Regions from separate parts of the Homo sapiens genome. Here region 1 is linked to region 2. Evidence: fine-mapped expression QTL. Tissue or cell type: cultured neurons. Region 2 holds a variant in brackets; the other region holds the start of a gene. All regions are shown on one strand. Distances are from middle to middle.

The links.
Region 1: RFWD3 starts here. The variant in region 2 is fine-mapped to the expression of RFWD3 in cultured neurons (Aygun 2021, PIP 0.95).

The regions. Positions count from the first base shown.
Region 1 is chr16:74,665,141-74,668,049 of GRCh38, reverse strand. It overlaps RFWD3 (ring finger and WD repeat domain 3), which reads left to right and starts at 1,173. Exons shown (of 13, transcript NM_018124.4): 1 at 1,173-1,264. It also overlaps the pseudogene TMPOP2. RefSeq lists a silencer at 1,494-1,643.
Region 2 is chr16:74,615,134-74,618,042 of GRCh38, reverse strand. No RefSeq gene overlaps it. Among named protein-coding and RNA genes, the nearest start is that of GLG1, 9.5 kb to the right of the region's middle. The variant A/TA (reference allele first, on the strand shown) is at 1,438.

The sequences.
Region 1 (2,909 bases), 50 kb before region 2:
CCTTTTGAAGATCCACTTGTCCATTCAGTCCCAGTTATTCCAGCTTGAGAATAGCTCTCCTTGTGCTCAACTCTTCTTTGCTTGAGGGTTACTGGAGTCTTTACTCCCCTGTTTAGCGGTTCTCTCTTCTCAAACTTGAGCCCAATTTAGAGTCTTCTTCATTTTCACCATATCTGTCAGAATCATTACTTCCATTCTGCCTTGTATTTTCTGCTGAAGAAGAAATTGTTGCTGAAGGAGACGATCTTGATTCTGTTCCTTGCTCCCTCAGTTTCAAAAGCTATTTCTCATACAGCTTCCTGGTTGTTCCCACAATAGGACCACAATTCACTCCGTATTTCACAAGCTGATCCAAAGGATCTTCATTAGTGAGTTCTGTTACATCTAGATCGTCTTTATCATCTTGTCTGGGTTTATCAGTTTTCTTTGTGGCTTTCCTGCCGGCGGCGGGCTCGGAGCCGAGACGGCTGTGGGCTCGCGCTCCTCGTACGTAGCTGGAGAATTCCGGGGGCCCCTTTCTTTTGGCGCTGGCGGCGAGCGGCGGCCCTAACAAGTGATTTGAGACTGTTCAGTAGCTCAGATCCCTTGCAGCGGTTTGAGATTGAAGAGATTATGTAGGCAAAGTATTTTGCGTGAGCTCTTCAACCCCATGAGAGGATACATATGAACTGGACTGTCCTACGCCTCTTTACAGGCTCCGAAATTCAAAATATTGAAATATTTTGAAATTATTCGATTAGCTGCTATCCTTTGGATACAGATAACTCCTTCACTAAAGCGTTAGGGATAAGCAGCAGGAGTCAGTTTTAATATCATCATCCCCATTCCAAAATGGACCGAGAAATCATATAACTTTCTCCCGCCAGAAAGTTCAAATAAAACGCGCTAAAAAAAAAAAAAAAAACCAAACAAAAAAAAAACAAAAAAACCTCCCATTTTTTCCGGGGCGGGTGCAAGGTGACGGACGTAGATTCCTGCCAATTGTAGGAGGCTTCCTCAAGCGCGGTCCCGCCTCGTCAGGACGAACTACCAGCCAATGAGAGCACCGCTGCTTCAGCTATCGGGGGACCCATTGAAGAAGAAGAGTGGGTATTGGCCACAGCGTAGGGCTTCTGTCCAATAGGAGCATGCCTGCCGGCGGCTCTGGCGGGAGCTTGAGCGGCTCCGGAAGTGGCAGTTGGCGTAGGTGCATTCGGAGTGCGGCCGAGGTAACTACCGAGTCTTCGGCGGGCTCGCGAGCCCGGCCGCGGCCTGCTGGTTTCAGGTGAGGAGGGGTGTTGCTTCTCCTCAGGCCTTGGGCCTCTAGCTTCGGGATAAACCTCCCCACGCCTGATTCCTGGATTGGGATTCAGGAGACACCCCACGAGGTGGGCTGCACGCGGGCTTGGAACCCGGCGGCCTGAGGGGATTCGGGCCCTCGGGGCGGCGCCAGTGGTCGGGGCTAAGGAGCCCGAACCCCCGCGCGTATCTGGGTTGCTGGGCGTGGGGGCTGGGCAGGCGAGAGCTCGGGGCGATCACTGAAGGAGCCGAGTTCGCTGCTGCGGGGCCTGCCCTGGCCGGGGTGGGAGGTCGCCCGGCCCTTCCCCCGAGAGCCTAGCCTCGGGCTCCTCAGCGGCGTTGCCTGCGCCCGCTCTGAGCGCCGATTACTTCATCACTTTAAAGTTGATGGAAGAACTTCATTTTTAATTTCATCACGGAAACTGTGGAGTAAAGACTTGTATTATCCCTGTTTTACAGGAGAACAAGTTGAGCCGAGTTTAGGAAACCCGCCCAAAGTTTCCCCATGTAGTAAAAGAACAGGGATTTAATATCTATGTATCTAATCAATCTATCTATCTATCTATCTATCTATCTATCTATCTATCTAATCTGTCTATCTAATCTATCTATGTCTTTCTTTCCCCATGTAGTAAAAGAACAGGGATTTAATTTCCTTCTTTCCCTCTCTCCCTTCCCCTCCCGTCTCCCTCTCCCTCCTCTTCCCCCTCCGCCTCTCCCTCTCCCTCTCTCTTCCTCCCTTTTTCCTGTTATAAAGAGAAAAAGGTGTTATAAAGAGAAAAGCGGTGGCTCAGGCCTGTAATCCCAGCACTTTGGGAGGCCGAGGCAGTCGGATCACCTGAGGCCAGGAGTTCGAGACCAGCCTGACCAACATGGAGAAACCCCATTTCCCAGCTACTCGGGAGGCTGAGGCAGGAGAATCGCTTGAACCCGGGAGGCCGAGGTTGCAGTGAGCTGAGATCACGCCATTGCACTCCAGCCTGGGCAACAAGAGTGAAACTCCATCTCAAAAAAAGAAAGAAAGAAAGAAAGAAAAGTCTCCCTGTTGCACCCAGGCTGGAAGAGCTCACTGCAGTCTCGAACTCCCGGGCCCCAGGGATCCTCCCACCTCGGCTTCCCGCAATAGCTGGGACCACAGGTGCGCGCCACCACGCCCGGCTCATTGTTTTATTTTTCTTTTTTCTTTCTTTTTTTGAGATAGAGTCTCGCTTTGTTGCCCCTGCTGGAGTGCAGTGGTGCGATCTCGGCTCACTGCAACCTCTGCCTCCCGGGTTCAAGCGATTCTCCTGCCTCAGCCTCCCAAGTAGCTGGGATTACAGGCATGCGCCACCACACCCGGGTAGTTTTTGTATTTTTAGTGGAGACGGGGTTTCACCATATTGGCCATTCTGGGACTCCGACCTCAAGTGGTCTGCCCTCGGCTTCCCAAAGTGCTGGGATTACAGGTGTGAGCCACCGCGCCTGACCTGTTCTATTTTTCTTTTTTGGTAGAGATGGGAATTTCACTGTGTTGCCCAAGCTGGTCTGGAACACCAGAGCGTAAGTGATCCATCCGCCTGGGCATTTCAGTGTCCAGGGATCACAGGCGTGACCCTCTGCACCGGCCAGAGCAAAGATTTGAACACTTCCCC
Region 2 (2,909 bases):
TAAAGGGAGAGTTGAAGGCTGAGGGGGAAACAAAGTTCAGGACATCACTGAACAGATGCTTGGGTTAAAAAAAAAAAAAAAATGGCCGGGCACGATGGCTCACGTCTGTAATCCCAGCACTTTGGGAGGTCAAGGCAGGTGGATCACGAGGTCAGGAGTTCAAAACCAGCGCGGCCAACATGGTGAAACCTCGTCTCTACTAAAAATACAAAAAATTAGCCAGGCGTGGTGGCAGGCACCTGTAATCCCAGCTACTTGGGAGGCTGAGGCAGGAGAATTGCTTGAACCTGGGAGGCAGAGGTTGCAGTGACCCTAGACTGTACCACTGCCCTCCAGCCTGGGCAACAGAGCAAGACTGTCTCAAAAAAAGAAAACAAAAACAAAAAACTGGCACTTTTGTTACCTAAGCCAGCTCTGTGTGAGCTGCCAACAGTTGGATAAGCTGCTGGTTAATGAAAGTTGTAAGTGGGAAGTTGGCAGGCCACTTATTTCCTGGAATAAAGAAGGGGATGCCTGCCCTGGATAAATGGTTATGCTCTGCCTTCAAACTCCAATGCCTGTAGACCCTCCCATTTAAGAGAAATGTCACCAGAGTTAAAAAGAGTGCCTCCAGGAGGGTCCAGGGGAATTCCCAGGCTTGAGCTATGGAGGGGGTGTTGAGTGATGATGTGGCTTCCTCCTTTCTCATAAGCCTGGTACAAAAAATTGCTGGTTAGATTGTGCAGGAACATATGGGAAACAATGAGGGCCTAACATGAGAAAGGGTGACAGGGTAGGGGGGAAGATGGGAAATTGCCACGGAATCTAAGCTCAGTGAAGTTCTGACACCTCACTTGTACCCCAGTGGAAGCTCCAGAGTTAGCGATGACCCCAGTTCCTCTCTTGAAGATGATGTCCTGACTTGAGATAGAGAGATGGTATTTCACTAGGCAAACAGTATGCTACCCCCTCAGCTCACAGGAGTCACTTGCCCTTGAGTCAAGGAAGTAAACGAAATATCAAATGCTAACATTTGTTTCTCTGATTGAGACCCTCTCCAAAAGACATGATATTCCTGCAAACTGGCAAATTGCCATAAAGGAAGTAATATTCAAACTACAGTCCGGTCTCTACTGTCTACAGATCAGAATGCTGGGTGAGTTTTTCTTCTCCAGGAGTCTTAGATTCTCGTCTAGACAGTCACTGAGGTTGCTGTGACAGACAAGTTCAGGTCTCTTAGCTGGATAATGTGGGGGTGTCTAGAAATATGTTACTTGTTACTCTTTTTTTTTTTTTTTAATTGAAATGGGGTCTCACTCTGTCACCCAGGCTGGAGTGCAGTGGTGTAATCTCGGCTTGCTGTAACCTCTGCCTCCCAGGCTCAAGTGATCCTCCCACTTCAGCCTCCCAAGTAGCTGTGACTACAGGTATACACCACCATGCCCAGCTAATTTTTTT[A/TA]TATTTTTAGTAGGGACGGGGTTTCGCCATGTTGGCCAGGGTGGTCTCAAATTCCTGGCCTCAAGTGATCCACTGCCTCAGCCTCCCAAAGTGCTGGAATTACAGGCATGAGCCACCACGCCTGGCCTGTTATTTCATTTTTAATCCCTTAAGTCTTGTCAATATGAAGTCACCAATGTCCTAGCTTAGTAGTCTAAACAATTTCTTTTTCTTCCCTGAGACTGAGTCTCACTTTGTCACCCAGGCTGGAGTGCAGTGGCATGATCTTGGCTCACTGCAACCTCTGCCTCCCAGGTTCAAGTGATTCTTCTGCCTCAGCCTCCCGAGTAGCTGGGATTACAGGCGCATGCCATCGCACCTGGCTAATTTTTTTTGTTTTTTTTTTTAGATGGAGTCTCACTCCTGCCAGGCTGGAGTGCAGTGGCGCGATCTTGGCTCACTGCAACCTCCGACTCCTGGGTTCAAGCGATTCTTGTACCTCAGCCTCCCAATTAGCTGGGATTACAGGCGCCTGCCACCACGCCCAGCTAATTTTTGTATTTTTAGTAGAGACAGGGTTTCACCATGTTAGCCAGGATGGTCTCGATTTCCTGACCTCATGATCTGCCCCGCTTAGCCTCCCAAAGTGCTGGAATTACAGGCATGAGCCACTGCACCCGGCTAATTTTTGTATTTTTAGTAGAGACTGGGCTTTACCATGTCAGCCAGGCCAGTCTTCACCTCCTGACCTCAGGTGATCTGCTCGCCTTGGCCTCCCAAAGTGCTGGGATTACAGGCGTGAGCCACCACGCCCAGCCATGCTATGCCTTTTATATGAAAGAGATTCTCTAGTTAAAGAAGTTACTCAGATGTGGTGACCTTGAAAATGAGCCTCTCAGATCTCCAGCTGTGGGGAACATGATTGACCTCTGTTTGATCTGCTGAGCACTGAAATCTACAACTGCATTCATCCCAAGGATCCTCCTAGTCTTGACTAAGAGTGATAGGGCTACTGACGCAGGCCCATTTCTGGAAGACTCAGTGACAGGTAACTTTTGCATGAGGACTATCCTATGGCCTTGGCCAACTTTCTTTTTTTTTTTTTTTTTTTGGAGACGGAGTTTTGGTCTTATTGCCCAGGCTGGAGATCTTGGCTCACTGCAACCTCCGCCTTCTGGGTTCAAGTGATTCTCCTGCCTCAGCCTCCCGAGTAGCTGGGAATACAGGTATGCACCACCATGCCCGGATAATTTTTTGTGTGTTTTTAGTAGAGACGGGGTTTCTCCATGTTGGTCAGGCTGGTCTCGAACTCTCGACCTCAGGTGATCTGCCTGCCTTGGCCTCCCAAAGTGCTGGGATTACAGGCGTCAGCCACCGTGCCGGACCTTGGCTGACTTTCTTAGAAATGAATTTCAGTTTAAGTTGAGTCTTAGATGTTTCCACCGAATCCTCCCGTCCTTCCTTCCCTCCCTCTGTACTTCACACAGTGTTGG